Linked DNA regions of Homo sapiens. The protein of the gene in region 2 interacts with the protein of the main gene of each other region in a biochemical or structural test. Each region holds a gene or a part of one and is shown on either strand. Other genes may lie near its edges.

What was found.
Region 1: the proteins of YWHAQ (region 2) and CDK17 form a complex in vitro, tested with the Homo sapiens proteins (one study listed by BioGRID).
Region 3: the proteins of YWHAQ (region 2) and VIM form a complex in vitro, tested with the Homo sapiens proteins (one large-scale study listed by BioGRID).
Region 4: the proteins of YWHAQ (region 2) and LMO7 form a complex in vitro, tested with the Homo sapiens proteins (one large-scale study listed by BioGRID).
Region 5: the proteins of YWHAQ (region 2) and PRKD1 form a complex in vitro, tested with the Homo sapiens proteins (2 studies listed by BioGRID).
Region 6: the proteins of YWHAQ (region 2) and PFKFB2 form a complex in vitro, tested with the Homo sapiens proteins (one study listed by BioGRID).
Region 7: the proteins of YWHAQ (region 2) and NOLC1 form a complex in vitro, tested with the Homo sapiens proteins (one large-scale study listed by BioGRID).

What each region holds. Positions count from the first base shown.
Region 1 is NC_000012.12:96,288,332-96,293,029, reverse strand, and holds part of CDK17 (cyclin-dependent kinase 17), read left to right. Parts: intron 1-3,742; coding exon 3,743-3,863; intron 3,864-4,698. UniProt on the Homo sapiens protein: May play a role in terminally differentiated neurons. Has a Ser/Thr-phosphorylating activity for histone H1.
Region 2 is NC_000002.12:9,619,800-9,624,497, forward strand, and holds part of YWHAQ (14-3-3 protein theta), read right to left. Parts: intron 1-4,698. UniProt on the Homo sapiens protein: Adapter protein implicated in the regulation of a large spectrum of both general and specialized signaling pathways. Binds to a large number of partners, usually by recognition of a phosphoserine or phosphothreonine motif.
Region 3 is NC_000010.11:17,230,769-17,235,392, reverse strand, and holds part of VIM (vimentin), read right to left. Parts: intron 1,807-4,624; coding exon 1,711-1,806; intron 1,624-1,710; coding exon 1,462-1,623; intron 701-1,461; coding exon 575-700; intron 225-574; coding exon 4-224; intron 1-3. UniProt on the Homo sapiens protein: Vimentins are class-III intermediate filaments found in various non-epithelial cells, especially mesenchymal cells. Vimentin is attached to the nucleus, endoplasmic reticulum, and mitochondria, either laterally or terminally.
Region 4 is NC_000013.11:75,803,830-75,807,329, reverse strand, and holds part of LMO7 (LIM domain only protein 7), read right to left. Parts: intron 3,042-3,500; coding exon 2,789-3,041; intron 1,852-2,788; coding exon 1,570-1,851; intron 1,273-1,569; coding exon of another isoform or gene 1,069-1,272; intron 1-1,068.
Region 5 is NC_000014.9:29,578,353-29,582,484, forward strand, and holds part of PRKD1 (serine/threonine-protein kinase D1), read right to left. Parts: intron 1,739-4,132; exon of another isoform or gene 1,613-1,738; intron 9-1,612; coding exon 1-8.
Region 6 is NC_000001.11:207,062,610-207,067,307, reverse strand, and holds part of PFKFB2 (6-phosphofructo-2-kinase/fructose-2,6-bisphosphatase 2), read right to left. Parts: intron 4,689-4,698; coding exon 4,592-4,688; intron 4,166-4,591; coding exon 4,099-4,165; intron 3,962-4,098; coding exon 3,887-3,961; intron 3,536-3,886; coding exon 3,479-3,535; intron 2,273-3,478; coding exon 2,148-2,272; intron 2,132-2,147; exon of another isoform or gene 2,014-2,131; intron 1-2,013. UniProt on the Homo sapiens protein: Synthesis and degradation of fructose 2,6-bisphosphate.
Region 7 is NC_000010.11:102,158,179-102,162,876, reverse strand, and holds part of NOLC1 (nucleolar and coiled-body phosphoprotein 1), read right to left. Parts: coding exon 4,663-4,698; intron 3,685-4,662; coding exon 3,569-3,684; coding exon of another isoform or gene 3,539-3,568; intron 3,445-3,538; coding exon 3,309-3,444; intron 2,982-3,308; coding exon 2,853-2,981; intron 2,645-2,852; coding exon 2,534-2,644; intron 2,426-2,533; coding exon 1,784-2,425; intron 1,322-1,783; coding exon 1,215-1,321; intron 1,045-1,214; coding exon 952-1,044; intron 767-951; coding exon 608-766; 3' UTR 1-607. UniProt on the Homo sapiens protein: Nucleolar protein that acts as a regulator of RNA polymerase I by connecting RNA polymerase I with enzymes responsible for ribosomal processing and modification.

The DNA.
Region 1 (4,698 bases), on a different chromosome or scaffold from region 2:
AATATATCCACAAAAATAAAAGCTCTTTAGGTCTTTGATAATTTTCAAGAGTATAAAATGGGTCTTGAGAACAATGAGTTTAGAAGCAACTACTGAAAGGCGTTCCCTTAATATACCTGCCACCATTACTCTGTATTTATTATATGCTCAGTAATTTAATTGTAGCTATTTATCTATTTTTTTTTTAGCTAATCTGGTTTTAAGGGAATTGAAAGTAAAATTAAATGCTCTTTTTGCTTCTAGAAAGTAAACTTTTTCATATTGAAGGAACTTTGTAGAGCAGCTTTGAATTTTTTGTATTCCGCATTCTGAGAGTTTGAATACTCTTAGAGAACTTAGTTTTTAAAAACCCATGCAGTTTTCCATAACTAAATTCATAATTTTTTTTCATAAATGATTATGGTAGTTTTTTGGTTGTTTGTTTTGAGACAGGGTCTTGCTCTGTCACCCTGGCTGAAGTCTAGTGGTGCAATCTCAGCTCACTACAACCTTCGCCTTCTGGGTTCAAGCGATTCTGGTGCCTCAGCCTCCCAAATAGCTGCAATTACAGGGGTGCCCACCACGCCCAGCTAATTTTTGTATTTTTAGTAGAGATGGGGTTTCACCATGTTGTTCAGGCTGGTCTCGAACTCCTGGCCTCAAGCAATCTGCCTGCCTTGGCCTCCCAAAATGCTGGGATTACAGGTGTGAGCCATCACACCTGGCTTTGATTATGGTAGTTTTATGTTTGGAGTATTTCATTAAATTTAATAAATATGAGTGTTTCAAGTATTACTCTTCACTGTCATTAAATGGTGAGTTTATTCTGGAAATTCCTATACTTTTGCTCGTTTAATACTTTGCCATTTGAAGAGTAAATTACTTTTTGCATTTCCTTCCTTAAAAAGGAAATGTGTGGGTTACCTGTGTTTGAATAACAAATTATATGCTATTTACATATGCTTTCATAAAGTCTCTTCTTGGGCATAGTTTATGTTGTTATTTCCCTTATAATAATTGTTACTCTCTCTCTCTTTTTTCTTTCTCTTTCCTTCCCCCAGCCACTATTTCCTTTTCACTCTTTTTCCTTCTCCTTCTCTTTGTTTGCTAACCTGCATGTAATGCTCTTTATTCCCAATCCCAAAATGAATGGCAGTGAAGAGAAATACTTCAGGATGCTAAGGCGGGTGGATCAGATGAGGTCAGGAGTTCAAAACCAGCCTGACCAACATGGTGAAACCCTGTCTCTACTCAAAATAGAAAAGTTAGCTGGGCATTGTGGCGGACACCTGTAATCCCAGCTATTTGGGAAGTTTAGGCAGGAGAATTGCTTGAACCCGGGAGGCGGAGGTTGCAGTGAGCCAAGATCATGCCACTGCATGACAGAGCGAGACTTCATCTCAAAAAAAAAAAAAAAAAAAAGCAAAAGGAATGTCAAGGACTATAAAAAATTTACCTTTGGCTGGGTGCGGTTGCTGACACCTGTAATCCCAGCACTTTGGAAGGCCCAGCAGGCAGATTGCTTGAGCTCAGGAGTTCAAGACCAGTCTGGGCAATATGGCAAAAACCTGCCTCTATAAAAAATTTCAAAATTAGCCAGGTGTGGCGGTGTGCACCTCTAGTCCCAGCCAGTTGGGAGGCTGAGATGGTAGGATCAGTTGTGCCCGGGAGGTTGAGGCTTCAGCGAGTCATGATCAAGCCATTTCATTCTAGCCTGGTTGACAGAACAAGACCCTGTCTCAAAAAGAGGAAGAAAAAAACAACAACTACTTTTATCAGGGAATACTCTGAGTGCTTTAAATTTTGCTTCCAACCTCTACAATGCAAGCCAGGCAAATTTTACCCACAAGGCAACAAGAAATTCTGATTATTCCATGAGATAGTATATTCAATTCTGTCTCTATTTCTTCCTTTTTTTTTTTTTTTTTGGTTGCATAGTAAATATGACTTCTTGTGAAGGAGGGTCATATAACTTTGAGTATTTATACTATAAGTTGTTCTCTGTCCCTCTGAAAATTCTACCCTTTTCCCACGATCAGTGAAAATCAGAAGTCTAGGAACTAGTGATATAGACAGATATTTTCACTAATGATAGAAAATGGCTTATATAATAATACCATATCACATTTAATTAATTTTGTTTAGGAGAGATTGTTTCATTTCATTCCAACCAGTATTGAAATTCTAATTGTGAACTAGAAGGCCATGTACACAAACACCATAGTTCGGAATCCTCTCAGGAGTGGGAGAGTAGGATACTGAGGAAACTATAACTGGTAATTTGCCTTGATATGGTATGTTACAGGATAAGCACGTTTGCAGCCCTGTCCTTTGCCTTCCTATAACCCACTTTTAATATCAAGAAGAGAGGTCAGAAAGCTACCTCCATCTTGTTAATTAATTACCAAAATTGGTATGAAAATAATTTGTTGGACTTACTTCACCAAGTTGAGATGCTAGAGTAAAACTTGTAATTAAATGAAGGAATGTCAACATTGTTCCAGTTATAACCTTTCACCATTATACTGAACTGAAATAGTATATGAGTCCTGCCTAATTAAATTTCTGACATTGTTTCTGTAACCTTATTCAGTAAAATTGATTTTTTCTTTTGTGACATTTTTCTTTAATATTTTAATCAGATATACCAAGTTATATATAACAGCAATCTCAGCCTAAAAAATAAATTCTTCCTTGTTTTGGCAAAATAAATTTGTAATTTTCCAGATATTTTTTAAAGTTGCTTCTTCAGATCATAATTTAGAGGCTTCGAGGTAATAGCGACTCTCTCACACTAGTGACTCAAGAGATAAAGTTGTAAACTCTAGCCTTTATTTCTGGATTATCAATAGATTCCATATTAAATTAGCAAAGGAATGGCAAATGTTTTATATCACTTACAGCAAGCTTGTCCAACCCATGGCCCATGGGCCATATATGGCCCAGGATGGCTTTGAATGCAGCCCAACACAAATTCGTAAACTTTCTTAAAACATTATGAGATTTTTTTGCGATTTTTTTTTTTAAAGGTCATGGCTGTTGTTAGTGTTAGTGTATTTTATGTGTGGCTTAAGACAGTTCTTCCATTGTAGCCCAGGGAAGCTAAAAGATTGGACACCCCTGACGTAAACAGCAATTAATAATATCCAAGGACAATGAAGTCTGTCTTACTCCAGAATGATCCATGTAACTTACAACCTAAAAAGGGAGTACAGAACAGCACTGTAATTTTATTCCAAGGAAATTGTCTCTAAGTCGATTTGTCAGTAAATCTCAATGAGATTATGGACCAATAACTTTACAGTTTTTGATAAAAAATGGTATAGCAAATGAAAGTTGGAATCAGGTTAAAAGGTGACAAAAGCTCATAGCCGTTAGAAGTAAAATTGTGTATCTCAATGTCATTGGCCTATTATGGATTAATTTAATTGCAGCTGAGAAATAATTTTGTCATCATGATTCATGGACAGAAGGAAAACATCTTAAGTTTAGATTCACCCAGAATACTTCACCAGGTGTATTCAAACATAAAAGTAAGCACAGTCTCTGGTTGTGGAATTCTTGTTTAGTTCAACTATGTAAGGATTTGCTTACTTAGGGCCACATGCACTCAACGAATTCATAAAGTTAATAGTGGTGAAGCCTCAAGAAGCTACGAATTAACCATTTCAGGCATCCCTTTGAATGGAGTCATGGTGAGAATAGGGTCTGAGAGATCCATTAAAGCTTTTTCTTAACCCTTTGTTTTATTTTCCCTATGAAGGACTAGCCCGAGCCAAGTCAGTTCCCACAAAGACCTACTCAAATGAAGTTGTCACACTATGGTACCGGCCACCTGATGTGCTTCTTGGTTCCTCGGAGTACTCAACACAGATTGACATGTGGTAAATATATACAGATGTCACTGACATTTATAATTTTGAAAGAATGTAACTGTTAATGCAAGATGTATTGATAAGTATATACTTTTAAGGAGATATTATTTTAAAGAGCCATAATGTAACAGTGATTAATGAGTTCTGGCATGGGAATTAGATTACCTAGGTTTAAATACCAATTCTGCCATTTAGAACTATGTGTTAACTTTATTCAAATTACTGGCCTTTGCCTCAGTTTCCTCATTTAAGGAAATGGGAATAGTAACAATAACTACTTTGAAGTGTTGTAGGTGATGTTAAGATTAAATGAACACTCAGAAGAGTGCTTTATGAGACACTCAAGAGTATCTGATACATAGTAATTTAAAACAAAATTATCATTTTATCATCATTTAATATTCACCAAAATCTTTCTGCTTTAACTTGAACTAAAAGTAATAATCAAAATATTGTAGTCATCTTTCTCACACACCGCTTCGATCCTGACACTCTTCTACTCAGACACCGTTATTGCCACCCCCTTCATTACCTATAGAATAAGGTACAATTAATTCCTCAATCTGATACTTAAGGATTTCCATAAGATGTCTCTAAACTACCTTTTCCAACTTATTTCAGACTGTTTCTCAACACAAATGTTCCCTTTTAGCAAAATGGCATACTCACTATATCTCAGGAATAATGTGGACTTTCCTACCTTTGCTCTTGGTGTTCATACCAGTCCACCCATCTGGAATGCCCACTCCGGTGCTCTAACTTGGGCTCATTCCTAGTAACGTTCAAAATACAGCTTTTCATAAATCCTTTCCTGAATATACTCTAGCCTCTGTTGGCAGTTCCT
Region 2 (4,698 bases):
AAAAGTATATTCCCAAATGACTGGAAACAGTACCAGGCTGAAAGATCAGAACACCTAGTATAAATATGTTTAACTGCAGAGGTTTAACAACTGTAGCTTTTAAGAGCAAAAATCCTGTGAGCTGCATTCAAGTAATGTTTGGTGGAATGTACAAAACAAGAGGGAAAATGGAGTACTAATTATTGAAGAACAACAGCAGTAAGAGTTATTCAGGAATAAAATGTCTAATCTGATGATCCATATAGCTTATGGCTTTAAAGCATTTTCACACACTTCTCCATTTATTTCCTCCAATCACCGCGACATGACGTTCACAATCTATGACCATCCTTTAAGAAAGCATTTAAATTTATGTAAGTTCTTATCATCATGGTCTCACCACTTGCACCATTATTTTTCCATTTCTCTAAGTAAAGCCTGTAGCAAAGGTACAGGAGACAGAATGTTCAAATGAAGAGTATCGTACAGAATATGTATTTAGTACCACACTGTGCCAAACCCAACTGGATACTGTAGTAAAAATCCAGATGACAAAGAGATCATGAAATACTACTCATCTGGATAGAAAAACATGTAAACTGACAATCAAAGGTTGGTATGAAGACAAGTTTCACTGATAAATACTTTGACCAATGCTGGTTAACAGCTAACCTGACTTACTGCCTCCAAAAGCTGTGTATTTTTAAAACTTAAATGCAACCAGCTCTGAAAGACCATTATCCATATTTTTCATGGATGTCAACTCTGCTTTTTGGTCAGGTATTGGGAGGGGCAAGTTAAGAGATTATTAACTTCATATTATCCTTCTCAACACAAGAAAGCAGAAAGACATTCCAACATACCAGATCTTTAGCTGGTTTCCAGGAATTAACAGGGACTTTTATTACCCAATGTCTAATATCAACTATTCTCCTTTCTTCATTATCACATCTGTGATTTTCCTGGTCTTCAAACCTATATTCCTAGGGATAAGATGGGGTGCAGGGGCAGAGAAATGGGAAGGGTGGGGAAGGTTTTACAAATTCCATTATCACCACATATGATGACTACTCAGAAAATAAACTGCTCAATCACCCAAACACAGTAATAAAATTCTCGTAGAACAGCAGTTCTACTATTAACTTCAGTAATTAAATTCTCATAGGGCAAAGTATAGTCTGGGAACCCCTAGAGGTCTCCCCTATATCCTTTGTGGGGTGGAGAGGAGACAAAGTAAAACCACTTTCATAAGTCTAAGATATTTGCTTTTTTTCCACTGTCATTTTCTCACAAGTGGAGTTTTCCAGAAGCTACAGGAGGTGGAATACTACAATAGGTTGAATGAAATGCAATGCCGCTATTCTCATTCAATTTTTTGTTAAAGTTATTTTATTTTCTAAAAAGGGGTCCTGAGATCAAATTTGTGAACCACTGTCCCAGAGTATGGCCAATTAAGACGTCTTACACAGCATCTGGTAACTCCATCAATCTACTTAGCACTCATCACCCAAACAAAAAAGTGATGGTGCCAGTGATGTCTCCTAAGTGGGGATCAATACCGTTCTATACATTCTCGTATCTTGAGGATAACAAGACACAGGCTACACACTATCTTCTTGCTATATGTATTAAAGACACTCAACCAGTGATGTGAAATATCATAACCCCCAATACATGGCAACCAACAATTACAGTGAACACCCCCACATATCCACCACCTGGATCTTACCATTAACCTTTTGCCATACTTGCTTTTTCAGATACCCATACATTTCTAGCAGTTACAAGCTGAAGACATAAGTACAGGCATATCACTAGTTTTTTTTCAAAGCAAAATTTACATACAAAATGCACAAATCTTGGGTGTACATTTGCTGAGTTTTGACAAATGTATAAAACCCAAACCCATATCAACTAAAGAATACAATTATCCATTCTACTATAAAGACACATGCACACATACGTTTATTGCAGCACTATTCACAATAGCAAAGACTTGGAACCAACCCAAATGCCCATCAACGATAAACTGGATCAAGAAAATGTGGCATATATACACCATGGAATACTATGCAACCATAAAAAGGATGAGTTCATGTCCTTTGCAAGGACATAGATGAAGCTGGAAACCATCATTCTCAGCAAACTAACACAGGAACAGAAAACCAAGCACCGCATGTTTTCACTTACAAGTGGGAGTTGAACAATGAGAACACATGGACACAAGGAGGGGAACATCACACAGCGGGGACTGTCAGGGCGTCGGGGGCTAGGGGAGGAATAGCATTGGAGAAATACCTAATGTAGATGACGGGCTGATGGGTGCAGCAAACCACCATGGCACATGTATACCTATGAAAGAAACCTGCACGTCCTGCACTTGTATCCCAGAACTTAAAGTATTAAAAAAAAAAAAAAATACAATTATCCCAGAAGCCTGCCCCTTCCCAATCTCTGCCTATTCTCCCACAGAGGCCATTATTCCTGATTTTTTTTCCTACCATAAACAGGTTGTGTTTGTTCTAAAATTTCATATAAATGGAATCACATACACTATGTACTTTTTCATGCAAAGTTTCTTTCACCTAGCATGTTTTTGAAATTCAATCATATTGTAGTATCAGTGGTCCATTCATTTTAATGCTGAATAGTATTCCATTTATGAATACATCAGTGTTTATCAATTTTCCTACTAGTGGATTATTTCTAGTTTTCTGCTCTTAGAATAAAGCTGTTATTAACATTTTTGTACCTATGCGCCTTGGCCCCATGCATCATTCCCTCTTGCGTAAACACCTAAGAGTGGAATTTCTAGGGGAGGAAAAACTTATAATAGGGAATTTTAAAGGTACACAGGAGAACAAAGAATAGTACAATGAATTCCAATTAAAGCCAGCTGCAACTATATTAATTCATAGACACTCCTGTTTCATCTGTATTCCCCCAATTACTCTGAAGTCCTAGGTATTATCATCATTTTGTCTTTAAATACTCAATATGCAAACAATAGTTTCAAATCTAGTAATTTATCATATTTATCACTGACTTATCTATGGATTAAGAGTTTAATTAAAGTAGCAATGGATAAACTTTGCTTCTCTTCACATCTTTTAAATGATGTCTCTCTACCACCTCCCTGATATCCAGAAAGTCAGTGGTATGAATTCAGATACGTTTTCTGTTGCCATTTGGAAAGGATTAGTGTTAAATACAAAAACTGGTCTTAATGATAAAAATAGAGAACATTACCATAGCCAACCAGATTTCCCAACTGCCAAAGCAACACCTTGACTGAACTAATCCCATGCTATGGTATCATGTTCTAAATGAAACTACATGAGACTTAAAAATACTAGTTTTCTTAAGCAGTCCTTTGTGAGAAGGGAGGTGGTCCTCATACATCCAATACTGAACAAGGAGATAAGACGTTAAACCTTCTGGTCACCAGATTTTTGTTAGCCTTAAAAACTTGCTTGTGCTGGAAAGGGTTAGGGGAAATGAATGACCTTCTCAACCACTGCTGATGACAGTGTATACACATACCTTTTCAGAAGGCTATCTGGAAAAAACCGCACATCTTTTGATTTGGAAATTCCACTTCGAGAACTTAAGTAAATCCTAGCATAAAGCATGCAACAACGATCTTCTTCCCAGGGGTTGTTTGGAGAAAAATTGTTGACAGTGTTCACCACTGCATTAAAAGTCTGAACCACGGCCGGGTGCAGTGGCTCACGCCTATAATCCCAGCACTTTGGGAAGCCGAGGCGGGAGGATCACCTGAGGTCGGGAGTTTGAGACCAACCTGACCAACACGGAGAAACCTCGTCTCTACTAAAAATACAAAATTAGCCGGGTGTGGTGGTGCATGCCTGTAATCCCAACTACTTGTGAGGCTGACACAGGAGAATTGCTTGAACCCGGAGGCAGAGGTTGAGGTGAACCAAGATTGCGCCACTGCACTCTAGCCTGGGCAACAAGAGCAAAACTCTGTCTCAACAAAATAAATAAATAAATAAATAAAATTAAATTTAAAAAGTCTGAACCACATATGCCAAGCTACTATGAAGGAGGGGAGGAGATTTGCCGTTCATCAATTTTCACTGCATCTAATAGATTTCAATATAATTGCAGTCTGTGCGAAGTCTTTAAAAGAGCTCAGGGCTTTGGAGACAACTATGAAGAAGTGGCACTTTGAAAATATAGGACCCGGCCAGACACAGTGGTTCACGCCTGTAATCTCAGCACTCTGGGTGGATTGCTTGAGCTCAGGAGTTCAAGACCAGCCTGGGCAACATGGCAAAACTTCATCTCTACAAAAAATACAAAAATTAGCCAGGCATAGTGGCAAGTGCCTGTAGTCCCAGCTACTCCGGATGCTGAGGTGGGAGGATGGCTCGAGCCCGGGAGGTGGAGGTTGCAGTGAGCCCAGATGGCGCAACTGCACTCCAGCCTAGGCCACAGAGCCAGACTCTGTCTCAAAAATAAAAACAAATCAAATCAAACCAAACAAAAAATAGGACCCACTGAATAAGTTTCAGTAAGGTGAACTGTAGAGTTTGAACAGCATACACACAATAATGACAAGGGGAAAAATGACAAGTCTAGCTAGACAAGAGGTTCAGGTAAGATATCAACACGTTAGGAAGAAGCCAAAGGACAGCATGACACAATCCAATACAACTTAATACAGCTCATTTTATTTATGGACTAATCCAAGGC
Region 3 (4,624 bases), on a different chromosome or scaffold from region 2:
TACCTGCTCTCCTCGCCTTCCAGCAGCTTCCTGTAGGTGGCAATCTCAATGTCAAGGGCCATCTTAACATTGAGCAGGTCTTGGTATTCACGAAGGTGACGAGCCATTTCCTCCTTCATATTCTGAATCTCATCCTGCAGGCGGCCAATAGTGTCTTGGTAGTTAGCAGCTTCAACGGCAAAGTTCTCTTCCATTTCACGCATCTGGCGTTCCAGGGACTCATTCTGCAGGGGGTGAGAAAGATGTCTGGTGTTATTTCTCAGAAAAACCCAGCTGTTCCCAGAACCATTTACAGACCTTCTGCAATAATTTCCATTAGCGGCAAATGGCGACCACTCTAATTTTAGGTGGAGAATGCGAGTACCAAGTCCTTCATATTAGAAGCAATGATATAGGCAAGCTAAAACCTTCAAGAGTTCCATGAAGTCCCTTTTGAGTCTGTCTTGATAACTCATTTTCTTTGCATTATGATATACATTTTTACTCACTCAACATTTTGTTCAGGTATCATCATGAGCCTAGTCAGCAGAATGGGTCATTATTTTCCCTCTTTTACTGCAGGGTTGGTACTCACGGTTCCTTTAAGGGCATCCACTTCACAGGTGAGGGACTGCACCTGTCTCCGGTACTCAGTGGACTCCTGCTTTGCCTGGCGCAGGGCGTCATTGTTCCGGTTGGCAGCCTCAGAGAGGTCAGCAAACTGTTGGGAAGAAAACAGAAATGTAGATTGCTCACATTCAAGTCTTTTGACTCTCTTAGAAAAAAAAAATCATATTTCTCACTGAATGTCTTCCAGTATAGGTTTAAATTTCTGTTTTGAAAGCCAGGGAAAGAGCAGTGGAGTACTGACATTAGTATTTTCAGAGTTCACTCTACAGTGCTCATTTCAACACAGTGGAGGTCAAAGGTATGGCATTGGGGTTTACTTGGAGGCAAGGTTAGGGGGAAGAGAGTCTGCTATTCTGAAGGAGGTGATGTGGCCAGGCGTGGTGGCGCATGCCTGTAATCCCAACATTTTGGGAGGCTGAGGAGGGTGGATCACCTGAGGTCAGGAGTTTGAGAGAAGCCTGGTCAACATGGTGAAACCCCATCTCTACTAAAAATACAAAAATTAGCCGGGCATGGTGGTGCTTGCCTGTGGTTCCAGCTCTTAGGGGGCTGAGGCAGGAGAATCACTTGAACCTGGGAGGCGGAGGTTGCAGTGTGCCAAGATGTTGCCACTGCACTCCAGCCTGGGCAGTAGAGCAAGACTCTGTCTCATAAATAAATAAGAAAATAAATAAATAAATAAAGGAGGTGATGTGAGTGGTGGGGAGGCTGTGGTGGCAAACACAATATGAGCAAGAAGTCAAAGCCAGCTTTGCATTGGAGCTAGAGGATATTTAGGAATCACACACAGGTATGGGGTTTTGAGAACACAATGCTTTTCTTTGGTTGAAGCCGCACTGATTTGTTTCCTACCTTGGATTTGTACCATTCTTCTGCCTCCTGCAGGTTCTTGGCAGCCACACTTTCATATTGCTGACGTACGTCACGCAGGGCAGCCGTGAGGTCAGGCTTGGAAACATCCACATCGATTTGGACATGCTGTTCCTGAATCTGAGCCTGCAGCTCCTGGATTTCCTGCAAAAAGAACAGACAGACGGTCAGCTCTGCCAACCGTGGGGGCTGCCTTACCCTCATTCATTCCCCGAAAGTCACTCCACTAACCTCTTCGTGGAGTTTCTTCAAAAAGGCAATCTCTTCTTGCAAAGATTCCACTTTGCGTTCAAGGTCAAGACGTGCCAGAGACGCATTGTCAACATCCTATTTTGAACAGAGAAAAGACAGGACATGGAGGATGTAAAAGTGTATGGCTTATCTCATTTATTTGTCTTAGATTAACCATCTGAACCTAGTCTCCTTACTATAGAAAAGCCGTTGACACATTTTATGACCCTGGAATAGGTTTATAAATCATTCAGTGCTATAATATGCTGTGCTTTCTCCTGCTCACTAATATATTTTAATTGTGACTGCTTGTGTTTTACTCAAGGTGGTGATCAGACAATTTTAAAATAAATAAATGTCCACACACATGGTAAACTGCACTCAATCATGACTGAATCCACATTTTACCAGTGATATTTTAAAATTACTTTTTAAGGCTGGTCATGGTGGCTTATGCCTGTAATCCCAGCACTTTGGGAGGCTGAGACGGGTGGATCACTTGAGGTCAGGAGTTCGAGACCAGCCTAGCCAACATGGCGAAACCCCGTCTCTACCAAAAATACAAAAATTAGCTGGGTGTGGTGGCACATGCCTGTAGTCCCAGCTACTTGGGAGGTTGAGGCAGGAGAATTTCTTCAACCCAGGAGGCAGAGGTTGCAGTGAGCCAACATAGTGCCACTGCACTCCAGCCTGGGCAACAGAGTGACACTCTGTCTCAAAAAATAAAGTAATTCATTTAATTTAATTACTTTTTAAATCTAGAAAATCTATGCCACAACATTTTTAAGATTTGTTTTGTAATTTCATGGAATAACATGATGATAGAGGTGGACAAATTTTCACAACTTCATGTACACTTGAGTACATGGAGAACAGAAACTTGTGCTTCAAGAGTTTTAGCTTTTCTTCTCCACTCAAATCTTTTGAAACTTATCCTTAGGCTCCAAAGCAAATATGTAGTCATCTGGCATCCATTGTACAAGGCTAGATTTATATTCAATAACCCAATTCAGGATATGCATGCCAAAGATTCAGTTCAGGAAAAAATGGAAAAGAAATGTAACTCTGAACTGTATTTGCTTGGCTTTCTCTGGTGGATTTTTCTTCTAAAACTCCTTTGACTCATCCTGTAAAGGCATGTCTTTTTCACTTGCCACTGTATCAGTTCAGTTAGCCTGTTTCAGAATGACTGGTCAAGCTTGCAAAGAATGAAACTACATAAAGGATTTTTGCTGATTCAGCCGTCCTTCTATATTTCCATTTAAAAAGCTCAGCATTCCAAATCAGAATATGTAATCTTGCAACTAAGATTTTATTTCCTCTCAAAAGGATGCGTGAGGATTGCTTATCTTGTCAGCAATTATATTTGGAGTTCATAGCCTTACGGTCTTAAACTGTTGAGACTTTTCTATCACCTTAGTGGAAAAATGAATGAAGAGTGGGTGACAAAAAGATCAGACTTGATGAAAACATTGATTTTTACTTGTTAAGCCCTGAAAAATACATAAAAGATATTTTACTAACCTCCAAAGAAAGATCAATGTGGTATTCTATCACATTGAAGAGAATGAGGAATTTTGCTTAATCTCGAAACAGAGGATCTTTTGTATTGATGTTGTTTTATGTTAACTCACTACACTGCAGAAAACATGACAGGTATGATAATCAAAAATGCTCAAGGACTAAAATGAACCACACACATTGCTGTGGTTAAATTAATTTGGTAAATGTATTTCAGTTTCAAAATGTTATACTACACTATTCATCTGAGAGTGCTTTGCAGTTAATCCCAGTAAATATTCCAGGGAATACAACTATAAACTATAATGGGGATCTTCTGGCTTTTGGATTCCAATTTTAAGTTAAAAATTCTGTAAGTCCATCTAATTTTGGTGAAAAAAAAAAAAAACACGCACAAAAACCCTTTAGTTAAAATTCAGTTTTTCAGCCTTGGGTTTATTACTGTTATTATTTTTTATGGCAAGAGTGCTAAAGAACACAAGAACCCAATCAAGAAAGGACTTTTAAAATGTGAGGTATGCTTGTAGCTTTAAAAACTTTTTACATTACCTACTTCTCAAGTCTGGGCCAGATATTAGATAACGGATGTTAGCAAATACTTGTGTCCAATTAGAACCGTGCTTACATCATTACATATTCAGTAAGAATGTAGCCTGTTGCAAAGCTTCCCTGGGAATACAAAGACTCCTATTATTTCTGTCCAGAGCCACCACATTTGCCAGAATGTCTGTATCTACATTCCATAGTGAAGCCCATAGAAACCATTAATACCCCTTAGCCAAGGGGACAGATGGCTCCTTTTCACCCTTATTAGATCACAAAATAGTTGTGCATAGTGATACTTCCATCGAACTTTAATGACACAATAGAATTTGCAAAGAAGAAAAGAAACTTGCTGGCTCCATTCCAGTTGGAAACTAAGTTTTCTTATCTTCCAACACGTTTTCCATTTTAAACTGCAGGGCATAATTGCGCTTTTTGTGGCCTTGTAAAAATTAAGCAACTTGACTTTGGCAAACCACAATCTAAAATTGTAACCGTTCGAAACCAGAAGGTCAATGTGTTGCAAAACTGTGCAACATTTGGGAAACAAAGTAAAAAGTTAAAAGATTTTTCTTTATGTCCCAAGGAACTGCTTAGAAATCATTCAAGGATCGCTTGAACCCGGGAGGCGGAGGATGCAGTGAGCCAAGATCTCGCCACTGCACTCCAGCCTGGGCGACAGAGTAAGACTCCGTCTCAAAAAAAAAAAAAAAATCGCTCAAGGGGTTTTATTAATATTTTTCTAATCATGAGAAGCTCCAACCTGTGGTCTTCCCGCCACTAGAGGGCTTTACGCGCAGCCCTGAAGTTTTGCACTTTTTAGACGTGAGTTAAGCAACTTTTAGAATTG
Region 4 (3,500 bases), on a different chromosome or scaffold from region 2:
CTAGGAAAACAGACTAGCATTTAATCCAACACCCATGACTTTCCTGGATAATCCCTAAAGAAATAAGAGCAGAGCATACTTCTCAGGAAAGTTGGGCACCATGGAGGCCACGGATGGGGCTGGAGCATGGACTAGGTACCCCTCCCAGGCACACACAAAAGCCACTCCCTGGTACCCTGTTTTTTGTTTGTTTGTTTGTTTGTTTGTTCTGAGACAGAGTCTCACTCTGTCGCCCAGGCTGAGTGCAGTGGCGCCATCTCTGCTCACTGCAACCTCCGCCTCCTGGGTTCAAGCAATTCATCTCCCTCAGCCTTCCGAGTAGCTGGGATTACAGGGGCCCCCTATCATGCCTGGCTAATTTTTGTATATTTAGTAGAGATAAGGTTTCACCATTTTAGCCAAGCTGGTCTCAAACTCCTGACCTCAAGTGATCCACCTGCCCTGGCCTCCCAAAGTGCTGGGATTACAGGCGTGAGCCACCCCGCCTGGCCCCTGGTATCCCTTTCTCATTCCATTTGCCACAGTGGCCTAAGTGTCCCCTGAAGAAGAAGGAATAATCTTTGAAAGTTTCACAAGTTGTGCATCATGCACTTTATGCAATAGGTATATGTAATCAGCAGGAAAAAGGGAAAATAAATTGCTCTGAAGTTTTATAAAAGAGCTCAAGGAATCTTCCCTTTGCATTTTCCCTAGACTTGCCCTTCCCAGTCTCCACCTGAAAGTTATTTCCTTTTTCCACATCTCCACACACAACAAAACCGTGAAATTAGGTAAACTTTCTAACAAGCCTTTTTGAACCGGCTTTTCAAAAGAACTGCCACATGTAAATATATCCTGTCTCACACATTATTGTGCTAAAGAAGAATGTTGAATCCTACAGACTTCCAAGCTGATGTAGTTGCACAGAAAGCAGCGTGTTATACATTACGCTTTTGTACTAAGTCCACTAAGTGAGTCAGGTTTCCTGATTCAGTGCAATCAGGTCCCAGGCTAATGGAGCAGCAGAAGCAGGCAGAGGGTTGTCTGAGGCCAGACCCGCAGCAGGCAGGCTCATGCAGACAGGGGCACCTGGGCTCATCCGAAGCACTACTGCTTCTCCTGGCTGCATGGGAGTCCGGTGATTTTACAGCCCGTTTGGTAGCTAATTCCAGCAAGAGTGAAGGTCTTTGGCAGTTGCCGTCTAGCCTATGCTCTGCTTTTTGTGCTCTACTAAAAACGGTGGCGCTTCTGTCAGAACCTGAGTCCTCATCCTCAGAGTCTGAATTCCTTCTACTGTGAGTGACATGAAGAAAAGAAGGGAAGAGGGAATGAGACAAAGAATTGGAGAAAAACAGAACTACTAAAAATAATGCCGTGCTATGACTATGTATAGAACAGGGCTTTTTAAGATCTAGATCCTCAGGTTTAAATTTAAACAGAAATTCATTTCCATTATATAGGTTCCGCAGATACTAGAGAACTAATTAGACTTTCTCTGTCTCTCTTATTATTATAAAAAACATGCACATAGAACCCCAGCTGGGGTACTGAATGAACACTGGTGTGACAGAAACATGCACAACGACAAACCTGAATCCCTGAAATTCTTTATACCATGGCTTATAAGTTTCCCTTTTTATTCTTTTCCAGTTCACATCTTCTGGGGTCCAACATTTGGGAAGAAACTGATCAAAAGCATTCCCTGGGTTTGGCATGACTGGACTGAGCTTGCGCACATAAAGATCATCCTTTACAATGTTGGGTATGCTTCTTGTCTTTGCTTTTTCCTCTTCCAAATAACAAGAGGACTTTGAAGTTCCTTGTACAGTTGGCCAGTTCTCCACATTGGTGCCCCAAATCCTCCTCTGATTACTGTTCAAAACATCCAACCGGTTAAGACACTGTATGAGCATTTGTGACACAGAACACAAATGGCATGCTTTCTGGTTCACAAAGTTTACACCACTGTGAACAAAGCAAATTAGTTTCCATTCTCATCACCACCACAGCTCCTAGGACAAAGTTATTATAACAGCATCTCATTTTAACTCAAGGATAGCTAGATACACACGGGCCAAAGATACTTCATTAGAAGCTGTGTTAAAAGGAAGAGGCACATAACAAACAATTTGGGGTGTTACTTTCTGAATTAAAATCAGCAGCATAATAGACAGCCAGATCCAGGACAAGTATTTCTGACCTCGTCAGTCCATATAGCCCCATGGCAAACATATCAGCAGGAGAAAATATTTGCGGACAAGAATTAGGATAGGTGATTTTCGAGATGAAATTCTGGGGCCTCTTTTTCACTTGGAATCTACGGTTGGCTAAGTCATCCAAAACTATGTCAGGAAACCTTCGTTCATCCTCAGAGTCCGAACCACTTTCAAAACCGTACGCCTCCCCATGAGAGGAAGCTGGATTTGCAAAACCACACTCTGTTCTGCTAATTTGCTGAGAAATTAAAGGATTCTTTTCATGTCCACTAAGATCAATCAAAAAAGGAAAAACATTACATGGCATGGCTCATCATGAACAATACAAATTATCTGGTAAGCTGAAAAATACCAATAAACTGAAGTCATGCATCTAAAAAAAGACCTAGCAAATCATATGCTGACATTCTAAAACAGAAGAAATGGCTTCAAGATATGTATAACTAAAAATAGAGGGATGAAAAATATTCTCACTAGTCAAGCTTAATATATGATCTATGAAACACATTTAAGAGCCATTCTTTTTACCACATTTAACATCCTACCATATTCGAAAAGCATACGAAACTCAATAATCACACCCATCTCAGTACCTTGAAAATGTTCCATCTGCTTCTGTATAAACCGGGCTTGCCCAACTTCTTCTGTTATCCTCATGTTTGTCTGGCTTTTTCTTTCTCAGAGGTGCTGGTACATAGGATGGCTGTCTACTTTTGTTGGGTAAAAAACGATTGAAGGGTAACGCAGTCTTTGGCTCAACAGCCGAAATCCTTCGATACGACATATCATCTTTATTATAATCCTGCATCTTAAATGTAAATTCCGAATCTGTGTCACTTTCAAAACCTATAAAGAAGGCACAAGAATTTGCTTTACTCTCCAGATTATTCGCCTAACTGAAACCCACACAGCGCGCCTGCTTTGTCTTTCCCTTAGAAACCCAGTGCTGCCACTGCTAACTGCAGGGAATATTTTTAGAAATTTGTCACGAAGTTGTGATAAGATCCATTAGGAGGAACTTGCTTTGCATACTGGAGGCACATGCAGTACATTCTTTTGCTGCTGTAGGCTCTAAGAAGAATAAGTCCTATTTTACTAGTGAGCCCCTTTTTTCTCAATCTCTTCCTCCATGATTTTCCATAAGATTTGTTGATGTAATACATAGAAATAAAATCTAGCAATGGAGTCACAGATACTTAAAACAACATGCAAAAATAATTCTGGGAGAACTCAGTAATTTAAAATAAGGCATGCAGCTATCTATAATATATGTGAGGAGAGAGATCAGGAAGGATGTAGAAAGAG
Region 5 (4,132 bases), on a different chromosome or scaffold from region 2:
ATCAATGGCTGAAAAAAATTACCAGTAAAAATAGATGACAAATCTGTAACATATGCATAATTCATTTATAGTTTATTTCACATCTGCTATTTCACACAGTTAAATGCAGCATAGTGACAAGGCACTAGAACCAAAAAAAAAAATCCTCTTAAGAATACTGAAACTTTGGCCTTCATTTTATTTTGGATACTAAAAAAAAAAAAAAAAAAAAAAAAAAAAGAAGAAGTTGGAAGTAATTATGGAAGAAGTATTAGAGTCTATTGTATGATATGAATTTCAATTGGTCTACTCTTTAACACTTTCTTTAATTTAGAAATTTTGTTTATATGTACATCATTTAAATATGTCTTACAATATGGGCAGGATAAAACTAATATTCAAGATAAAGCATTTACTAATTTTGTTATAAAACATGCTGAACGTTTGAATACACACAATGGTTCACACAGTATTGAATTAAATGACAGATATCTGAACATCATATTTGTATGGAAAAAATGCATCATAACATGGGTCATATCTCATGATAAACTTGGAGCCTGAAAACCAACAGCCCAAGAAGAAAACACTTTAATTGCTTTCACTTTGCTTTTGCTTTCAAAAATAACCAATGTATTGGAATTATATCAGCCTTCATAGACTTTCTAGAGGAAGACAGGAAAGAAGTCTATTTAACAAGAAATGTTCTCTGAGGGGTTAGAACCACAATCCCTCTGGCCTAGTACTCTGCTTGTGACTGGGGAGTCTGTGAGTGTAATTTATGAAGAAAAAGTAATACTCATCGTTATCTAGTCTGAAAATCATCCTAGTTACCCACAGTATCATGTGATGGAGTTCTCACTCTCCTTTTCTGGACATTATATTTTCAGTATACGTCATTAATAGTTCATTATTTATTAAAGTCATTCCCTCACACTTCTCATTCTTGTAATAACTTCCATGTTTCTCTTTTTGAATTTTAGCATTTTCTTCCCAAAAAGAGCTTAGTGAAATCTGCCAACCTAATAGGAAGCATTTATATTTCAAAGAGTTAATTTTTGCCCTTAACCTACCCTAGGCATTATGTCTGAAAGATGGCTCTTCCTACCAAAAATCTTAATCAAACAGGCAGCTGATAAACGAAAATGAAAATTAACTCCTCATCTTTCCCTATCACCAAGTCTTGAATAGGCAGCTTTGAATCCACTTTTTGGTGTGCATCAACCTGTATGGACCTGAAGATACAGACTGTCACATGAGACCAGAGGAACAAAGACTGCTTCCTTCAATCAGAATCCTTCCCAGTGTCAGGCAAAGAAAAGTGACTTCTACAGTCTTTTGGTAATTGAGAACCATATCTCTATGGAGCTAATGTTACAAGTATTTGCCTGCCCTGAAGGGCTGTAGAGTCAAATATCAAACAATTATTTGGAGAAATGAAATGCAACAACACACATTTAAATGTTGCCTATGCCTATACACTCTTGCCTTACCTAGGATACCTGAAGAAATACAGTACTCAGTACATTTTCATATTCCAAGCATGTGTTCTCAGAGAGCTTTTAAAAGTATAGTTCTGTGAACTGCGTATAGGGCATGTGCTTTAAAATATCCATTCACATGATTTACTCACTGGTGAGTAAAGTGCACCTTCCATTCTTGCTGCTGTGAAGTCACCCGGCAAAAATGGAGGACAAGGAGTGAAGGGAGAGCTTATGTGCTATTGCAAGCTTGCTGCAGCATTACACTGCCCTAGACACTGCAGGAAATAAATTCATGTCATTAATTCACTCATTCTGTTTGGAATTCTGTAATTAGAAAGGCAGGAGTACAGTAACTCAACAAAAGGTCTCGTTTGTGCCCAAATGGGCCCCAACAGTGAACCACACTGCATAATGGGGAGGGAAGTACTATCAGAGGGGAAACTAGAAGTGTCTGAAGGGAATGGAATAAGTAAAAATGAAAAAATTGTTCTGCTGAATGAAGCATACAATCATTAGTCTGACTACGCCACAGTACCCAACCCAAGTGACCTGAGTAAGCACAACAAGGCAATGGCAACTACTTCCAAGAGAAAATGGTTAAGGATATAAGGAGAGAATTAGAGGAGAAACGTGTATGTATAAATAAATGTGTGTGTGTGTGTATACATACATTTTGTGGCTTTTGGAAGCACACAACAGAAATAATGAACTATTAAATGTTAGCACCTATAGCTAAATGTTGGGACCACGGTATTAGTGAGAAAATAGGTCCGTCATTTGTAGTTGAGAATTCTGTTCTGCTTGTTACTTTTCTGGAACTCTTAAAATATCCTTTTTATTAATCAAGTTGTATACAATCCAGCATTAACTATACCATCCAAAATGCGTTTTACTAAACATTTTTGAACACAGTTTAGAGGCTTTTTTCCTTCCAATATTCTCTTTACTGGCCATGTCTACATTGATACAATATTCATGTAATAAAATAGTCTCAGATGTATTATGTATGTATAAATCATTCATTTATCTGTTCATTCACCAAATCTTCCTTAATTCCTGTTGGCAATTACTTATGAAATAAAAAGTTAATGATCAAGCCCTGACCCCGAAAAGCTCACAATCTAGTTGCAAAGGCACATGCATGCCCCTCCCCAGACCACAGATGACATCATGACACAATACACCATTCTGAATCTTTGACCTTTAATTCATATCCTACTCAAAGCAAAAAAAAAAAAGTGTTTTCTTTTTATAACTTACTGTCATTAGTCCTATTTATGTTTTAGATGCAATGGAAAACTTTATTCTATATGACAGTTCTTTACATCTTTGGAGACAGTGATTCATTCCCCTTAATCTCACCTCTATAGTTCCTTCAGATCTTTCAGCCTGCTTAGTCCTCCTGTACACCTCGATTTTAATAGTCACTAGCTCTACTCAATGTCCCTGTTAAAATTCAGTGATCATCACTGACCAACATTTTCCTCACTAACTGCCAATTTGAATTATACGCAAATATATTATTCATATAGTCTAGGATTGAGGGGTTTTCATTCTTTTTTAAAAAATTACATTCATATTCTTATTTAGTCCTTATAACAACCCCCTGAAAGTAGTTATTATTTTAATCTCCATTTTAATAAAAGGAAAACGTGACGCTTCAAAAGGCCATGTAAGTTGGTCAAAGTCAGACAGCTCCTAGGCAATACAGCTGAATTTGAAACCCAGGGGGACTGGAATTCAAAGCCTGTGCTCTTAAACACTATGGCAGACTGCAGCCATATTATGCCATTAACTTATCATTGTAAGTGGATAATTATCTCAAAAATTAACATTTTATTTTTACAGTCATGATAATTACATTCTTAGTTATGTTTCCACCACACTTTTATGTGCTTGAACGCAAGGATGTGTGTGTATGTGTATGTACATCTCTGTGACCATAGCTCTGCCTCATATCGTTAATTCTCCTAGCTTTCTGTCATGCTCACACCGAATAAGCCCATCTGCTATGTATTAATACAATTATTAGAACTTTTTTCAGGATAAGGCCTAAACATAGGGCTTTCTGACTCTATCACAAAACACATTACCAACTGCCAGGCCTATTAATTATTCTTTGAGCAAGTCTTAAAAGCAGGCAGTGCTTCCTCCTAGAAGTATTCCTATGTAGCTCATATTTACCATCTTCTCCAAAGGCTATTTTAGGCTATTTTTTTTTTCAAATGCTTTATCATTGAGACACATCAGTTCTTGGTAAGACTCATTCTACCAATCTGGTAATCCTACTTAAAAAAAAGTGCAGTTATTCTGGAATAATACATTTTAAGTAAATTAACATTGACAAATACTGACTTTCAGTCATTTTCTTCTCAGGGCCAAGATTTGTTTTCTAAATATTTGCAAATCATCTATTTAATCATTCATTCATTCTAGAATTTTGTCAAGGATAAATACTGAGCTTCTTGTTGAATAATTTGAGAATCCATTCTTTCCCCCTTTTAGAAATTCTACTTGTCTTAAATACCTTGGTATCTCTCTCATTTTATCGAGCTTCTTGTTGAATAATTTCAGAATCCATTCTTTCCCCCTTTTAGAAGTTCTACTTGTCTTAAATACCTTGGTATCTCTCTCATTTTATCTATGATTTATTAAAAATTACCACGGCT
Region 6 (4,698 bases), on a different chromosome or scaffold from region 2:
CCTGAACTTCTAGTAAGTTTGTACCATTTCCTCAGTGCCTGTAGTGTGACAAGTAATGTAGATAAATAGGATAAACAGAATTCAGCCTTCCCATCAGGGGCTAGACTAGGTGACCTGAAGATTTTGCTAAGCCCAAAATTTGGTGAGAAGAATAGGCCCCTTTTGAGGCAGTTAAGACCTGGCCAGAATATGGCACGACGAGCAACGAGGGGAAGGGAAGAGGCAGCAGAAGCACAGACAGAAATGTCTATATACTCCCTGCATCTACCTAATCATGCTTCTCTCAAAGACACTTTCAGACATTGCTTGCTTTGAGGCCAACATGAGATTGTTCTCTTTATAAAAGTCATAAGTGTGGCTGGATGCGGTAGCTCATGCCTGTAATCCTAGCACTTTGGGAGGCCAAGGTGGGTAGATCAGGAGATCAGGAGTTTGAGAACAGCCTGGCCAACATGGTGAATCCCCATCTCTACTAAAAATAAAAAAATTAGCCGGGCGTGGTGGCGGGTGCCTGTAATCCCAGCTACTCAGGAGGCTGAGGCAGGAGAATTGCTTGAACCCAGGAAGGGGGAGGTTGCAGTGAGCCGAGATCGTGCCACTGCACTCCAGCCTGGGCAACAAGAGCGAGAGACTCCATCTCAAAAAAAAAGTCATAAGTGCTTATTTTAAATCAAAAAATCAGAAAAAATGATGGAAGGATGCAAATCACGCATCACCCTACTACCAGAGATAACATATACAAACATACACATGTATATATATGTAGATCTTCTGTATGTTTTTCTAGGTGGGACTTTGTTCCAACTGAAGAATACTTTTATGCCATATCTAGAGGTGGTTTTCAGCCTCTGAATTAAGGGGATTCTGGGAAACCCACTTGAAGGAACTGAAAGGCTCAAAACATTAAACAGACCACTGTATTAAGTGTGCCATGCACATTAAATGTGCCATTTGCTTGGCTGCAGGTCTGTATTATGTGAATAGAGCTGTTAACTGCCCTGAATGCATGCTCTTTCATGAGGCCACATTCTTGCAGATTTCCATGTGTACACCATCTTTCTTCAACATAGACTTGGTTTTGTTATGGCTCATATACCTCACACATGACAAGTTAATCTATAGTCTACACCATACTGCCAACAAATGCTTCCATAGTAACAACAGCTGGCATTGATCAGACATTTCTCTGAGTCAGGCATGTTCTTGAGGGCTTTGCATGTTATATATAGAGAGAGATAGATATAAAAATATGCAATATGTAATATATATGTTATGCTATAATATGCATGATATACACACAAGCATTAATATATGTAAAATATCATATAATATATATAAACTTTAAAAACTGATGACACATCTCCAAAGGGTATCCTACAACACCCCCATTCAGATATGGAGCAGTGATTCTCAACCAGGGATAACTGTGCCCCCCGGGGAACCTCTGACATGTCTGGAGACATTTTGGTTGTCACAGGTTGGAGGTGTTACTGGCATCTAGTGGGCAAAGCCCAGGGAAGCTGCTGAACATCCTACAATGCACAGGACAGGTCCTACAACAAAGAATTACCCAGTTCAAAGTGCCAATAATACTGAGATTGAGGAAATCATGCTCTAGAGACTGGAGAGAAAAAATTGATGATAAAAAACACTTCCAGCCAGGCGCAGTGACTCATACCTGTAATCCCAGCACTTTGGGAGGCCGAGGCGGGTGGATTACTTGAGCTCAGGAGTTCAAGACCAGCCTGGCCAACATGGGGAAACTCTATCTTTACTAAAAAAAAAAAAAAATAGCCGGGCATGGTGGCGCACACCTGTGGTCCCAGCTACTCAGGAGGCTGAGGTGGGAGGATCACCTGAGCCCCGGGGGCAGCAGTTGCAGTGGGCCCTGATTTTGCCACTGCACTCCAGCCTGGGTGACAGAGTGAGACCCTGTCTCAAAACAAAACAAAACCAACCACTTCAATTTTTCATGTACAAGATGCAATCCACATAAAAGCCACAAATCCATACCTTATTTCTCTGGGATGATGTTAACACTGTAGATCTAGATTATCAGAAGGAAGTTAGAGAACTCAGGGAGAAAGGTTATTTTCCCAGATGAGACCTTTGCCTTGGGCCCTTCAAACCATGGCCTTAAACCTTACTTGTCATAGTTGTCTGGGTCAAGAGGTCGGTAGGTAACTTTGTAGCATTCAATTCTCTTCAGGAAGTCCTCCATCACGTTCTCTCTGTTCCTTTCAGGATAGTCAGGGCTTGATACCTTAACCTCCTGAAATCATAGGAACCAGTAAAGGCCTCATCAGAGGTCTGCCCGTAACAGTCCTCCTACAAATAGCCACTGCTAAAAAAAAGAAAAAGAAGTCCATAAATGTCGCCTTTCACTGGAACATTGGCACTCCACTCATTGAGTACCCCCCGCCCCGCCCCGCCCCGTCCTGTGACCCTGGCAACCAAAAAAGTTAAGACAACTGGGGAGTCATGTGCCTGCACTTGGCTGAAGGACAGAGGCAGTCACGCAGCCAAAGCTGCTCCTGGGCCCCAATCCCTTTATGTACTTTCCTGAGAAAACAGAACAGGCTCCAATGTTTCCCTATTACCACTCAGAATAGGGTGCATGACCCCAGTGCCTGACTTGGGACCAGATGGCTCTTCCTCAGATGATCCCAAGTTCCTACGGCTGGGAGAGCACCTGCATAAGACCATGTTCAGATATCTACTCGGTCCAGCAGAGCACAACCCATCCAATGGGGACTGGCTTACATTGTGACCCCACAGGGAATAAGGAGCTCAATGTATAGAACACTGACGAGAACTTTGGACAATTGCTGGGGAGATAACCTTCCTGTAGGTAAGTCCTGAAACGAAGAGTCTGATCTATTCTTTTTTTTTTTTCTTTTTTGAGACATGTTCTCACTCTGTTACCAAGACTGGACTGCAGTGGCACAATCATGGCTCACTGCAGCCTCAACCTCCCTGGACATGTTCTCACTCTGTCACCAAGACTGGACTGCAGTGGCACAATCACGGCTCACTGTGGCCTCAACCTCCCAGGCTAAGGTGATCCTTCTGGGTTCAAGCAATCCACTTGCCTCGGCCTCCCAAAGTGCTGAGCCTACAAGCATGAGCCACCGTGCCCGGCTGATCTATTCCAACATCTAGGTCTCAACATCCAGATAATACCTAGAGCACAGGGCCAAGAATCCTACAACCTAAACCCTGGTTTCAATTCAACAGCTAATTCTTACTTGATTCCTTAAAGCCTCAGTTTCCTCTCCCAAGAGAAGAGTGTAGAAGTACCAGATGGGGCTCTGGCAGATAGAAAAGATCTCTTTGTGATGTTAAACATGTCTATTTCTCTCTTTCATTACGAAAACACCCCTCCCCAACAACACACACACACACACACACACACACACCCCACAACACACACAGCACAAAAGGTGAAGAGGAGATGATATGTAGGGGTGTCACCAACCAGAATATTGGCAGCAATGACATCAGGATCATCACAGACGGATTCCACAAAGAATACCTGGCCATGGAGAGAAGGCAGTGATAAGCAAGTCAAAAATGCCAGGCTGTTAATTAAGAGCACATGCTCATCTACCCCACCCAGCCACCACATCTCCCAGGATTTTCTTCATGAAAGTGGCCCTCAAGTCCTCCTCATAGCTCTTACCACAGCCCCTGGGCCTCAAACATACAGGCTAACAGTCTGAGAAAGGACCTGAATGAAAACACTCAAGGACTGGGGGAATGCTCTGAGAGAAGAGATTCAGATATCCCATCCTGTCCTCACCCACTAGAGTGAGAGATCCATGCCTGTAGCCTGACTCCCCACCTCTACTCATCCCTTTTCCTCCAACATGGAGTCAGATCCTACCTTGAAGGAATTCTGTTCAGCAAAGTTCAAAATCATGTCCCTCCTCTCCCGGGTTGTATTGGTGGCATCAAACACCTGTGAAGAAAGTACACAAGGTAAATGAGCAGGAACAGAGAAACAGAACCCCACCAGGGCAGACTCAAGGTGGGGCTGGGTAGCCAGGCTGCTGCAAGGGTGGGGACCAGAAAGAAGAAGCAGCAGATAAAGCTTACCGCAATCTGACCATTCTCCTCAGTGAGATACGCCTTAACATCTTCCAGCGCCACCAGAGCACACTGTCTGCCATAAGAGCAAATGAAACCAGCAAGGAGAGCTAAGCTCAAACAGTCAGAGACACAAACATTCGGGTGGCTACAGAAGTCACATCCCTGCCCACTTAGTTTCCCACTGTTCAAAACCTTTCTCTAACTAGATCTTTCAACTTTCTCACTGAGGGTTTTCACACCATCCTATAACCCCTTCCTGCCCCTGCCCCAATGCACAGATCTTAGCCCTCTTTAGACTTCTCCTACAAGCACACAGGTATCAATCACCCTGAGCCCTGTTCTTCTGACCACCCAAGCCCAAGGTCACTTGCCCATCAGATAACTTCCATTTAACTTCCCCTTAAGATATTTACTGAGATGAAACCAAGCCCTGTCACACCAAGTCTCATGACGGCCAAGAAAGAGCTGACCTGGAGATCAGGCCTTAAACAAGACTCACTTGCGGATCTTCATGGCCTCCTCATTGTCATGCCGAAAGAAGTCGTAGGACTTATAGGACTTGACTGCTTCACGCCGATACACCCCAAGATTAAACACTGTAGAAGA
Region 7 (4,698 bases), on a different chromosome or scaffold from region 2:
GTTAGGTCCATGCTGGCTAAAAACTTCAGTCCCAGACCCAATAAATGAGGATGAAATACATAGTGCATGCTTAACAGACATTGCATATACATCAACAATTCTTTAATGCCCCTCTCTAGGGTTTTGAGGGAAGGAGGGATGAAATGTGGACATGTGCACTCACAAAGGCAGAATTTTCTTCCTATTATAAAAAGTCACACGTGACCCTTTACTATGTTTTGGGCAATAGCCAAGATTTTATCTGTGGGAATCCACCTTTGAAAATCACAACAAAAATCAATAGTAAGTGATTTAATATAAAATATACAAATTTCTCAGTATGAGGACTTTCACAGAAAAGGAAGGAGACAACAATGAAAATGAATTTTCTTAAAAAATAACATTCCCTTATTTTGTCCCTGCTACTCAACACTCAAAAACAAGTCTGTACAAAACTAGGAACACAGAAAAGGACCAGAGAGGATGTTACACTGTAAAGTCTTAGGACCTACTCTAAACTTCTGTCCTCATCAAGACCCTCACCTAGAGACCTGAGGGTTCCCAGGTCCACTGGAGAAAGTAAGTAGTCTCCGATCATCACCCTTGCTTCACCGAAGATGGCCTCAGGTCACTCGCTGTCAAACTTAATAGAATTGACCTGGACAGAGATTGAGCCTCCCCGGTAGCTGCCCCGCTTCTTCTTGGTTTTCTCATGCCGAAAGGACTTGCCTTTGGTGAACTTCAAAACCTGATTGGCTCGCTCTCCCCAGTCTCCGGCTGCACCTCGCTGGTAAGTAGAGAGGGAGATTAACACAGAGGAGGACCATGCTGGAGCCCTGTCACTTTATTCTTTCTACTCCCTGCTCAAGGAAACCTGAACCCAGAGAAGATTCCCACCAACCTGAACCAAGAATTGTCCTCTCTGACACTACCCATCCTCCCTCCCAAGAATGGCACAGATCTCTCTCTCACCTTGGCATCAAAGGAGTTGTCCGCAACTCGTGAATCCACCTCAATTTCCTCCTCCCTGACCCTTCGGAATGGGGATGATGCCCTTTTTTCTCCCTACAGAAGAATGAAGTAGGAAATTAAAGACAGAGTGGTCATGTAACAGTTCTCCTGAGTGATACACATGGGCACATGTACCAGGTCACGCCAGGCAGAGCTGTCAAGATGATCCTAGATTTTTCTACTTTTAAAGAGCTGGCTCCTGAGAAGAAAGTGAGACAACTTACTTTCTTCCTTTTTGGAAATGTGTTAGGGGTCTGAAGCTTTATCTTCTTGGCCTGAGGAGTCTCTGCCTCCTTGGCAGCCTCATTCTGCTTCCGCTTCTTTAATGAACCTACAAAACAAAAAGCCAGACTCAGGCCGAGTACAGTGGCTCACAACTGTAACCCCAGCATTTTGGGAGTCCAAGGTAGGAGGATCGCTTGAGCCCAGGAAATTCAGATCAGCCTGGGCAATATAGTGAGATTCTGTCTCTATAAAAAGTTAAAAAAATGAGCCAGACATGGTGGTGCATGCTTGTAGTCCCGGCTACTCAGGAGGCTGGGGTGGAAAGATCACCTGAGTCCATGAGGTTAAGGCTGCACAAGCCGTGATCATGCCATTGCACCCTGGTCTGGGTGACACAGTGAGACTCTAATAAAAAAAAAAAAAGGTAACCAGTTTCCTGTTCTTCCTCCCAGTTTCCACAACTGGAAGCCCAGTGGTGGGCCTCCTCTCACTACCCTACTCTCAAAGAGTATATCCCATCCTGATTTGGGGGGACAAAACCCAGAGGGCATGTTCATTGGGTACAGACCTGATTTGGAAACTACCACTGCCGCCTTTTTCTTTTCTTCTTCCTCCTCCTCACTGTTCTTAGCTGCTTTTCCATTCTGGGCAGTCAGTGCAGAGGTGCCATTGGCCTTGGGGGCTTGTGGTCTTGGAGAGCCCTTGCCCTTGAGCTTCTCTTCCTCTTCCTCACTGGAGTCATCAGAAGAAGAACTGTTGCTGCTCTCAGCCTTTCCTTTCTTTGCAGAGGCTGGCTTGGAAGGGGCTGCACCTCCTGCTACCTTCTGTGGCTTCTTCTTAACTGCAGACTTAGATGTCTTCTCTTCCTCCTCCTCACTGCTGGAGCTGTCTGAATCAGAGCTGCTGTCCCTACTACCCTGAGGAGCCTGCTTGGCAGGCAGAGATAGAGCTGCTTTGGCAGTCGCCTTGGGCTTAGTGGTGGCCACCATCTTCTTTGTCTTCTCCTCCTCACTGGAGCTGCTCTCTTCCTCACTGGAGCTGCTGTCAGCCTTTCTCGTCAGAAGCTTCTGGCCACCGCCCACAGGTTGCTTGGGGGCTGCAGCTGGCTTCACTGCAGGTGACTTGGTGGTGACAGCTGGCTTATTTGAAGAATTCTTGGTGGTACCAGCTGGCTTAGAAGGAGCTTCATCATCCTCAGAGCTGTCAGAGTCTAGACACAGAAGGGATGGAATCAACAGCTCCCCAAATTGGATTCAGGGGAGCCCTTAGCAGCTGCCTGAGAGCATCTCACTGAACTGAGGGCCTCCATATGCCTTACCTGAGCTGTCTGAAGAGCTCTCTGCTGCTTTCTTTGCTGGAGGTGGTTTAGTGGTTGCTTTAGAGACTACTGCCTTAGTTGGGGGTTTCTTCTCTTCTTCAGAACTTGAATCTGAGGAGAACCTGTAGCATTATGCTGGGTCCAGAGTCCCAACCCAACCAGGACAGCAATAAAAAGAATGCAAAGACACGCACAGAGCCTTAGCTCTGTCTTGCTTTAAGCAAAAAGCAACCGAAGGATGGAAGGCTTTCTCTCTCCCTTATTCCTCATCCCCTCCTCCAGACCCACGCTGAGGGGAGGCTGCATCCCTCTGACTCACCAGACTCATCACTGCTGTCTTCACTGCTTTCCACAGGCTGCTGCTTCTCCACAGCCTTCTTGGGAGGCTGGGTTCCCAGAGACTTCTTTGGTGGGGGAGCAGAAGGCGGGGGGACTGAACTGTAGGGACCTGTTTAAAAAGGATAGTGTGATGGTTTTAGGATATGTCTACAACTTTTTTTGATACTACTTTCTTGTAGAAATGAAGCTTAATTCCCCTTCACTTGAGTATGGGCCAGAATCAATGACTCAGTTCTAACAGAACATGGTGTCACCTCTGAGTCTAGGTTACACAAGGCACTGGAGATTTCTCCTTGCTTTCCTGGATCACTAGTGCTCGGAGAAGCTAGCTGTCATGTCATGAGGACGCTCATGCACCTCTATGGAGAGGTCCATGTGGTTACTGCAGCTGGGCCCTGACCACAGTCACACAGCTTCGCTCCCCATGTCCAGTCACCTGGTTTATTTTTCATGGGTTTTTTTTGCTCCTCTTCCTCGTCACTGGAGGAATCCTCACTGCTAGAACTCTTCCGGGTAGGGGTGGTAGCTGCTTTCACTGGGGCCTTGGCCACAACTTGCTTTTTAGGTACAGTCTGCATTAGAAAGAAAATTGATTACCACAGGAAAATGCTGACCCAACCAATCCTGCCAGGGAAGGAAGACACACACACATCACACCCTGGTCACCTCTGCCCTGACAGAAGTTATGGTCCAGACCTTCTTGGGGGTGGCTGCTGCCTTCTCCTCCTCTGAGTCATCACTGCTACTGCTGCTGCTGCTGCTACTGCTGCTACTGGCTGCTTTACCATTGGCTATTTTAGGTGCTGCTCGAGCTGGAATACCCAAGAAAAAGAAAGAGTAAGGAGTATTAGGGCAAGTCAGGACCATGAAAAACCTCCTTCCTATGAGCAGAGAACTTAGGAGTCCACCATTTTTTTTTTTTTTTTTTTTTTTTTTTTTGGAGACGGAGTCTGGCTCTGGCTCTGTTGCACAGGCTAGTGTGCAGTGGTTCAGGCAACTCTCCCGCCTCAGCCTCTGGAGTAGCTGGGATTACAGGTGCCCACCACCATGCCCAGCTAATTTTTATATTTTTAGTAGACACAGGGTTTCGCCATGTTGGCCAGGCTGGTCTTGAACTCCTGACCTCAAGCAATCCGCCCGCCTCAGCCTCCCAAAGTGCTGGGATTATAGGTGTGAGCCACTGTGCCTGGCCAGGAGTCCACCAATTCTTTCAACTTTAGAGCAGCCATCGAGGAGAATGCCAGCCATGGTTTACCACATCAAAGGATACCTTTCCTATCCCATGGCAGGAATAAAACTGTCTTCTTAGAAAAGATGACATAAATAATCTCAATACGCCCTCTAAAATCTTTCACTTCAACCTCCATTCAGAGAAATAACCTAACCCTCATCACAAGTTACAGAAAAAAAGAAAAATTCTCATTTGTCTCATAGAATGAACATACAAGAGTAAAAATGGCAGTGAAAAGCACAACAAATAGATATTTAAGTGATTACAGTGGAATGGGATGTGTGAAAACATAAAATGTCTATGAAATGTCACAAAATACCAAATGGATACCATTAAAAAAAATACACATTTTTTCTTGCTGCAATAACTTTCTCTATTTACTAGCTCCTATGAAATCTTGTTATTTATTAGTAAAACCTTTAAAATTAAAAGACCAGTAATCAACACCTCCAGTTCAACAAACAGTACCATTTCACCCCTGTGCCAAATCGGCAATTTTAACTCCAGTCCCCAGAGCAATCTGGTCCCCAGCCCAGCCTCTTGGGAACAGAAACAGTACCTGGTTTGGGAGGGGCTTTAGTCTGAGCTTTAACTG